Homo sapiens: one gene and its partner. The protein of the gene in region 1 purifies or fractionates together with the protein of each later gene. This does not show direct contact. Each region holds a gene or a part of one and is shown in the gene's direction. Other genes may lie near its edges.

What was found.
Region 2: the proteins of FBXL13 (region 1) and AKR1C4 purify together in Homo sapiens (affinity purification with mass spectrometry, with the first as the bait; one large-scale study listed by BioGRID). This does not show direct contact.

Annotation. Positions count from the first base shown.
Region 1 is NC_000007.14:103,067,227-103,072,479, reverse strand, and holds part of FBXL13 (F-box and leucine-rich repeat protein 13), read left to right. Parts: intron 1-5,253. UniProt on the Homo sapiens protein: Substrate-recognition component of the SCF (SKP1-CUL1-F-box protein)-type E3 ubiquitin ligase complex.
Region 2 is NC_000010.11:5,215,557-5,220,116, forward strand, and holds the end of AKR1C4 (aldo-keto reductase family 1 member C4), read left to right. Parts: intron 1-1,154; coding exon 1,155-1,237; intron 1,238-3,161; coding exon 3,162-3,204; 3' UTR 3,205-3,393; downstream 3,394-4,560. UniProt on the Homo sapiens protein: Cytosolic aldo-keto reductase that catalyzes the NADH and NADPH-dependent reduction of ketosteroids to hydroxysteroids. Liver specific enzyme that acts as an NAD(P)(H)-dependent 3-, 17- and 20-ketosteroid reductase on the steroid nucleus and side chain.

The DNA of each region.
Region 1 (5,253 bases):
AAGCATTCCTTCCTTACCAGCTTACTGCATTGTTCTGCACCCATAGAGGAGGCCCTTATATGCATTCTCCATTGTCTAAGATCATGTTCTCCTGAGGAGTCCTTCACTCACCTCTGCTAGCACACTAGCAGGAAGTGCAAAGGAGCAATCCTCTGGGCCCCACACACCCACCTTAAACTCATTACCCATTTCTTCTAAGAGAATATCAAGATGAATTCCATTCTGCCTCATATCCTGTCTGTACATTTATTTATCTGACTCAATTTCCCAGATGGGTTTTATACTTTTTTTTTTTTTGAGACAGAGTCTAGCTCTGTCGCCCAGTCTAGAGTGCAGTGGTGCCATCTCAGCTCACTGCAACATCCGCCTCCTGGGTTCAAGCGATTCTCCTGCCTCAGCCTCCCAAATAGCTGGGACTACAGGCACCTGCCACCATGCTCAGCTAATTTTTGTATTTTTAGTCGAGACAGGGTTTCACCATGTTGGTCAGGCCGGTCTCGAACTCCTAACCTCAGGTGATCCACCCGCCTCAGCCTCCCAAAGTGCTGAGATTACAGGCATGACCCACCACAGCATGACCCACCATGTCTGGCAGGTTTTATACTTTTCTAAAACCCATCTTCTGCAAGCCTTGGAATACATAAATAACCTTTCATTAAAGTTTTCCCTGTATATTTAACCTCTTCTGAATTTCATCTACCTGTCCTAAATAAAACCTGATTTTCTACCTACAATATCATTTTCCTGCAAATCTCTTGAATAGAGACTGATTTTTTTAAAAATCAGGCCTGGCTTGGTGGTTCATGCCTGTAATCCCAGCACTGTGAGAGCCCAAGGCAGGTGGATTGCTTGCCAGGAGTTCAAGACCAGCCTCGGTAACATAGTGAGACCCTGTGTGTACAAAAATTAAAAAAAAAAAAAAAAAAAAGCTAACTTGTCTTAGTGGCTCACACCTGTAGTCCCTGCTACTCATGAGGCTGAGAGGAGAGGATCACTTGAGCCCAGGAATTTGAGGCTGCAGTGAACTATGATTGCACCACTGAACTCCAGCCTGGGTGATGGAGCAAGACCCTATCTCTAAAAAAATAAAAAATTAAAAAACATTTTAAACAATCCTGCTTGGTCCCCTGGGCTTACTGAATCTGTTGATAGATATTTTTCATCCGTTTTAGAAAATTCTTGGTTCTTTTCAAATAGTACTTCTATTCAGTTCTCTCTTTTCCTTTTGGAACTCCAATCGTACATATGTTAGCTTTTTTTTTCTTTTTCTTTACCTTGTTCTACATGCCTCTTTTGATCTCTTCTGCTTTTTCCCCATTTTCTTCTTTTTGAGCTCAAGTTTGGATCTTTTTCATTGATGGTTTTCAAGTTTACTAATTTTGTTTTATGCTGTGTCCAGTCTACTCTTAAATACATCAAATGAAATCTTAATTTTAGACATGTTTTTCAGTTCTAGAATGACAATTTGATGTTTAAATAAATTCTGATTATTAGAATTATGCATCTTTTCATTCAGTTTGCCTTTTTCTGTTTTCTTTATTTGTTCTCTCCAAATCTGTTAAAATTTGATCCCCAGTGTTGGAGGTGGGGCCCAGTGGGAGGTATTTGAGTCATGTGGGCAGATCCCTCAAGAATGGCTTTGTGCCCTCCCCTGTGATAATTAGTGAGTTCTCCCTCTATTAGTTCACCCAAGAGCTGGTTGTTTAGAAGAGCCTCCCTCTAGCTGTTTCTCTTACTCCTTCTCTTCCCATGTTACATGCTGGCTCCCTTTGCCTTCTGCAGTGAGTAAAAGCTTCCTGAGGCCTTCGCCAGAAGCCGAGCAGATGCTGGCACCATGCTTCTTGTACACCCTGCAGAACCCTGAGCCGCATACAACTCTTTTCTTTATAAATTACCTGGCCTCAGGTATTTCTTTATAGCCGTGCAAAATGGATCAACACACATGTTGATGGTTGTTATTTTAAAATTATTGTTTGTTGCTTATGCCTGTAATTCTAGCACTTTGGGAGGCCGAGGTGGGTGGATCACTTGAGGCCAGGAGTTCGAGACCAGCTGAAACCCTGTCTCTACTAAAAATACAAAAATTTGCCAGGTGTGGTGCACGCCTGTAATTCCAGCTATTTGGGAGGCTGAGGCATGAGAATCGCTTGAACCCAGGAGGCAGAGGTTGCAGTGAGCTGAGATCACACCATTACACTCCAGCCTGGGTGATGGAGTGAGACTGTGTCTCTAAAAAAATAAATAAATAAAATAAATACATAAAATTAAATCATTGTTTGTTAACTTGAATATCCAGATCATTTGTGGGTCTGCTTCTATTGCTTATTTTCTTCTGTTGATAATTCAAGACATTTTCCTGCCTTCATACATACCTAGTAATTTCTTTTTTTTTTTTTTTTTTGAGACAGAGTCTTGCACTGTCGCCCAGGCTGGAGTGCAGTGGCGGGATCTCGGCTCACTGCAAGCTCCGCCTCCTGGCTTCACGCCATTCTCCTGCCTCAGCCTCCCGAGTAGCTGGGACTACAGGCGCCTGCCACCATGCCCGGCTAATTTTTTTGTATTTTTAGTAGAGACGGGGTTTCACCGTGTTAGCCAGGATGGTCTCGATCTCCTGACCTCATGATCCACCTGCCTCGGCCTCCCAAAGTGCTGGGATTACAGGCGTGGGCCACCGCGCCCAGCCCATACCTAGTAATTTCTTATTTTTATTGGACATTGTGTGAGAAAAGAACAATAGAAGTTCCAGATGATATACTCTTTCGCCAGCAAAGGTTCGTCCTTTCCTCTGTATAGGGTACAGAGCTCATGACCTCAGTCCAGGAAGGGACTGATCTGTGTTGAGCTTGGACTGTGGATTTATTTGGGTTCGGTTTACATCTGGTTCATCCCTATTCCTCAGGCATAGCTCTTCTGGGCTTTTGATTGAGAAGCTAGCCAGTCTCTGTCTCCTCAGACTGAAAGATTGTGAGAGATTTGGTTCTGCTCTTCGGAGGTATTTAAGCTTAGCTCTTTAGTTTCCCTTCTAGGCCCTCAACTTTTATATATGTATATATATTCCCCAATTTAAAACTTTTAAAAGTAAACTTTAATATCAAAAATGCAAACTTGGGGAGGGCATAAAAATCACACACAAGGCTGCCACTTCACACTTCGAGGGTTGCACAACGGCCGGGCAAAGGCGCTCCTCACTTTCCAGATGGGGCGGCAACCAGGTAGAGGCGCTCCTCACTTCCCAGAAGGTGCAGCGGCTGGGCAGAGGCGCTCCTCTCTTCCCAGACTGTGGGGCAGCCAGGGAGAGGTGCGCCTTACTTCCCAGACAGTGGGGCGGCAGGGCAGAGGGCCTCCTCACTTCCCAGAGGGGGCGACAGCCAGGCAGAGGTGCTCCTCACTTCCCAGGTGGTGGGGCGGCCGGGCAGAGGTGCTCCTCACTTCCCAGACGGTGGGGCGGCCGGGCAGAGGCGCTCCTCACTTCCCAGATGGTGGGGCGGCTGGGCAGAGGTGCTCCTTACTTCCCAGATGGCGTGGTGGCCGTGGGCCCTCAACTTTAAAATCTGGCAAGTACATTGAAGGTTATGCTGGCTGTATGTTTGAGGCAGGCTTCCTCTTCCTTCCCTGAGATTATGAAAGACTCACTCTGCCTTGTAGGAGTTGATGTTCTAGCTCCTCAGCCTCCTGTGTGAACACTCCCAGAACTCACTGCCTTATGGGAGACAGTGGCCACACTTGGGGCACCTCAAGTTTCTAACCTGTCATGTTACCCCCGTGCCACCACCATAAGCCTATTGGTTTCTCTTCCCATTTGTAGACTTTCTCTGCCTGGGCCCAGCCCTGTCCTCTTTCCTACCCAGAGCTGGCACACGTTCCCAGGGAAAAAAAGCAGCTGTGCATTGTCAGCTCACTTCAGAAAAATTTCCTTCCCCTGGAATTCCATGGCTCGCCAATATCTTTTTTAAATGTGATTTTTGTAATGTGTCTGTTTTTTTCTAGTTGTTGTAGCAGGGTCATTGGACCATGGTGACTTTCCACATCCTACTCAGATATGAAATCCTAGGGAGACTGTCTTGTTTCACTCCTCAGTTTACCTCAGATCTAGAGATAGGTTAGGTGTCTTCCTTGGCTCCCCATTTCCACTTCCAAACTATGTATCTTCCCTCCTTTTTCTAAAGTCTCAGCTTCTTTGTAGTTCATAACATCAGATTTAGCACTCACTGTCTTCATTATGTACCAATCTCTATGTTTTGTTGGTAGCATTAGCATCTGGCTCACCATCTTCCTTTTTCTCTACTCCTGTCATTGTTCTTGTGCCCGCAGTATTCACAGGGATGTTCCGTTCACATCCTTGACCTTTCTTCCAGTTATCTTTGCTTTCACCGTTCCTCAGTCATGTCCTTCTATGGTCATACTCTTAACCATTTTATCCTAAATTGCTGTACCATCTCTGAAATCTCCATTTCTTCATCCACTTATCTCTTAATTTCTTAGCTCACTCACATTGGAGCTTCTACACTAGCACTTCTTCAACTGACTCAAACCACCATTTCATTCAATTATCTTTGCACTGTCAAATATTACTCTTATGTCCTTATTTCTCTCTTTACCCATCTTAGATTCCTTGGTTCATCATTATTGTGGATGTCTATTACCTAAATGTCTTTACAACATTTAGTGATTTAAAATAACAGTATTCATTTTATTATTGCCTCTCACAGTTATGGGAGTTGACAGAATATTATTGCTTGAGATCCCTCATGCACTTACATGTCAGAGTGGCTGAGGTTAAAATCATCTTGAAGGCTTCCTTACCTACATGCCTGGCAGTTGATGCTGGCTGTCGATGAGGACCTCTCCTGAGACTGACAGGTAGAACATCTATGTGTAACATCTCCATGTAGCTTGAGCTTCCTCACAGCGTGGAGGCTGGGTCCCAAAACAGGTGTCCAAGAGACAGAGCCAAGTAAAATCTCCTTTTATAACCTAGCCCCAGAAGTTACTCAACATCACTTTCACTGTATTCTCTTCATTACAAGTGGATTATTAAGACTAATCCATATTCAAGAGGAGAGGAATTAAACCCCACCTCTTTATGTAAGAAATATCATTTGCAGACATGCTTTTAAAATGCCACCACACCATCATTATGATCACTTTCAAATACGATTATCTCCTTTACCTGTTTCTCCCTCTGTCCTATTGATGTGACAAACACCCATCCCTGGTAAAACTCAAATATCCAGCAGTCCGTGCTTACCCCTG
Region 2 (4,560 bases), on another chromosome or scaffold:
GAAGCAGTCACACTATCTCTTGAATGTTTTCCTGCTTAGAAATTTCTTCCACCAGATACCCTTAGTCATCACTAAGTTCAGACTTCCACAAAGTCCTGGAATGGACACGATGCAGTCAAGTTCTTTCGTAAGGTATAACAAGGGTGATCTTTGTTCCAGTTTTTAATAAGTTTCTCATTTTGATCTTAGACCTCATTAGCCTAAACTTAGTTGGCCATATTTTTAATCAGCATTTTGGTCAGAATCACTTAACCAATGCCTAACAAGTTCCAGACTACCCCTTATCTTCCCATTTTCTTCTGAACCCTCCTGACACTTCCAAACTGTGCTAATTATCCAGTTCTAAAGCCACTACCACATTTTCAGACATTTTTAGCAATGTCCCACTCCTGGTAACAATTTTCCATATTAGTCCATTGTGCGTTGCTATAAAGTACCCGAGGCCAGATAAAATATGCCGAAAGTTGTTTTGACTTACCATTTTGCAGACTGTACAAAAATCATGGCACCAGCATTTAGTTTTGGTGAGGGCTCAGGAAGCATTTACTCGTGGTAGAAGGTGACAGAGGAGGAAACATATCAAATAACAAGAGATGAAGAGGGAAAAAAAGAAAATGTCAGGCTCCTTTTTAAACCAGATTTCATGTGAACTAATGCAGTGAACACTCATTACCATGGGGAGGGCACCCAGCCATTCATGAGGGATGCCCCCAGGGCACAAACACCTCCCACCAGGACCCACTTCCATCATTGGGGAATTACTTTTTAACATGAGATTAGGAGGGGACAAATATCCAAATTGTATCACCATCAAACTGTCTAAATTATACATTTCAAAATTTCTCTAGATTCTTCTGAATCTAAGTACATGAACCAATCATGTGCACATAAGGTCAACTTCGTTCCATCTTTAGTTTCTGTTGAGATCTTTTCTTCAGTTTTGTGCAGTTTCAATATGTAATATCTAGGAATAGATTTATATTTTATCTGATATTCTTTAATCACTTGAGAGTTTAGAGATGGTCTTTCATAACTTTTGGAAACTTATCAAGTATTTTACATATTGCCTCTACACCCTACTGTGTGATATACTTGGCTATTCCAAGTTGACAATTATGCAATCTAAGAATAAACATTTTCTACTTCTTTGGTAGGTTTTTGAATTCCAGTTGACATCAGAGGATATGAAAGTTCTAGATGGTCTAAACAGAAATTATCGATATGTTGTCATGGATTTGTAAGTAACTTTGGAAAATGGGTTTCCCAGTTTATTTTTAGAGGAGGAATGTCAGATGGGTGTTGAAAGTGACCTCAATACCAGGGAGACAGAGGCCAGTGCAAGTGAGAGGTGAGACAGGAACTCTCTGGAACTCTCCTTCTGGATTCACTCCAGAGCTCTGTTCTCTGACAGGGTGAGTGGACCCAGGGTCAGCATCGGTCAACCTGTGCCTCTGCTCTCCTGACTCCATGGAAATTTCCAGAGCAGCCAATATTATTGCTAAATCTGCAACTTTCATGTAGGCCTGGCATTTCTGCCGTGGCCTAGTGGACAGTAGATATTGCCCATATGGCTTGATTAATGTTTTTCCAAATCTGTACTTATAGCTTTTTCTTCCAAATCCACTCAGTTTCTTATCAGCTAAAAAACATTTCCAACAACACTGGTGTCCATGCCAGAAATTCTCTTCTCTTCCATATGGAATTGCTCACTAGATCATGTCAATTCAGTATCTTTAATTGTTTCAAATTTCTTTCTTCCTTCTCTTTAGACATTTGCTCATGACCCAAACACTGCATTTTGCCTCCAGGAAGTTTGCCCTTAGTAGGCAATAGAACTCTTGGCTTTAATTTTTGCAATATGGAAATCTCAATGCAGAGTATAAAGAAGCTTTAGAGAAGATAGATTAAAAATCAAGGGAAGAGCCAGGCTCAGTGGCTCATGCCTGTAATCCCATCATTCTGGGAGGCCAAGGCAGGTGAATCACTTGAAGTCAGAAGTTTCAGACCAGCCTGGCCAAAATGGCAAAACCCTGTCTCTACTAAAAATAAAAAAATTAGCCATGCATGGTGGCACACACCTGCAAATCCAGCTACTAAGGAGGCTGAGACAGGAGAATCCCTTGAACCCGGGAAGCAGAGGTTTCAGTGAGCCAAAATTATGCCACTGCACTCCAGCCTGGGCAACAGAGCAAGACTCAGTCATTAAAAAACAAAAAAATCAAGGGAAGAGTTGGAAAGTCCCATCTTTGGGGATAATATATAGCTGACAAAAGATCTTACTCTTTTCTATATGCTCCAAGGTTCTAGGATTCACAGAAAGGCACTCATGTGATGAGGGCAAAACAAGTTATGTCACTGCCTGCAGTGGAGATGTTAACAAGTAATAGACATGAGATAATGTATTAAAAAGGATAAGCACAGCAGCACATCATAAGAACTCAAACATTTTTAGATATCTTTATTAGTTTAGAGGAAAATAGTAAAATAGAAAATCATGAAAAGGAAAGGAAGAGTGGCAAACATCAGTAATTCTCACCAATCAATTATTCAATATTAATGAATCATTTATTCATTCTATTTTGTGTGATTTTCACCTAAAGATTGCCCTTAGCATATTGTAGGGTTTTGAATATGGAACCCCATATCACATATGACAATTTACATGTCTGAATCAAAGAAAATATTTTCCATATGGTAAGCAGCTAGTCAGTAATGAATACATTCTTTTAAAAGGATATGTGATTGCTACCAATAACATTTAACCCTCAAAACTTTTTGTTAATGATGAACATATAGCTGGCTTATTTCTATTCAAAACAATGCAAGATGAGTTCCTGCTTTCATTGAGAATTTGAAATAGAAAATGTCAGAATATCTCTTTGCTCTGTTGACAGATATGGAGGACTATGTTTGAACAATTGACCCTGTGTAGTTTGTGTGATAAATTCCAGGCAAGGGAATATAAGTTGAAAATTTTCTTATTTTGAAAAAAAAAAAAAACACATTATAAACTCATGTTCATGAAAGACATTCTACAAATAGTCCGAAAATAAACTTCTTAACATTCACACTAATGGCAGCTTCATATAAATTCACTTTGCTACCAGCTTTTTAATAGAGTCATTTCATCCATATTTATGTACTATCCTTTCTCTTTTCAGTCTTATGGACCATCCTGATTATCCATTTTCAGATGAATATTAGCATAGAGGGTGTTGCACGACATCTAGCAGAAGGCCCTGTGTGTGGATGGTGATGCAGAGGATGTCTCTATGCTGGTGACTGGACACACAGCCTCTGGTTAAATCCCTCCCCTCCTGCTTGGCAACTTCAGCTAGCTAGATATATCCATGGTCCAGAAAGCAAACATAATAAATTTTTATCTTGAAGTAATTGAATGTTTTTCCTTAAAGATTCTTTTCCTACTCCTTTCTCTGTTACTTGTGTGTTTCTTTTCCTTCTAGTTCTTTAAGGCCAAAAACTGATTTGCCTATAAGTTTGGGGCAGAGAGCAGATGATAACCAATATTTTATAGACATTTTTGAGGTGAGAGTAGGTGGAGTTTTCAGCCTCTAGAGGAGAAGCAAGTGACATATTTGTTAGTCTGTCTTTAGCTCTTCCAGAAAGAAGAAAACACACAGCACAGAACCTGAACATGAGCCATATTGACAGGATGACCAACAATTAATGGCCTCCCTCCAGCATCGCAAGAATGGGAGCTCCAGCAACCTAGGGGTGCAGCATCCCTGTGGGGTAATGGTTAGGGAGGTGGGAGGGCACCCATCCAGGAGAAATAATTAGGAGTCAGATATGGGAGAGGTGAGAAGGGAGTTGAGCACATTCTGCTTGGGAAATACAAACACATGCTCTTTTGTTAATTACGTCTTGTGCATAAAAGGAAACTTCCCACATCGTTTTAAGGCTGAGAGCCAGGCCTTGACCTCCTCTGTGTGCCCAGTATCAGCAGTGACCTTGCTGGGCTGTGGTGGAGCAGGACATCAAAGACACCAGTGACTGGCCACATTCTCCTGAATATCAGCTCCATTTAGAACAAATTTTAGATTCTAAAAATATACTCTTAATTTGTTCTACTCAGTCTTTTGAAATATTTCATACATTCAAAAAGGCACACTTACTAATATAAAATATCTGAAAGCCATTACATGTTGTCAAATTAATTTCAGAATTGCAAATACATCTAATTATCCAAAATTTCAAAACTCTTCTGTAAACAGTGTATGTCAATAGCATGATGCTTTCAAACTTTGTAACAATTATTCCTGAAAGTTACTAAAGACACCTAATTGTTCATATAGTTTGTAGGGGTACAAATTTAATCAGCTAGTCAAGAAAATAAAATTTCATTCCAGACAACTTTTTGAAAAGTTGGGACAATGTTATGGGCTACTGGCCAAAGCACTTTGAGACTGACAGGTGTTTATGACCTGTGCACATTTTCCAGTGCTTTTACCCTCCACTGATTTAACCCCATTAGAGGGGTTTCCTTAAGCCATGTCTTTCAGCTGAGAAATATCCTGCCAAGTTTTGTAGTTTACAATA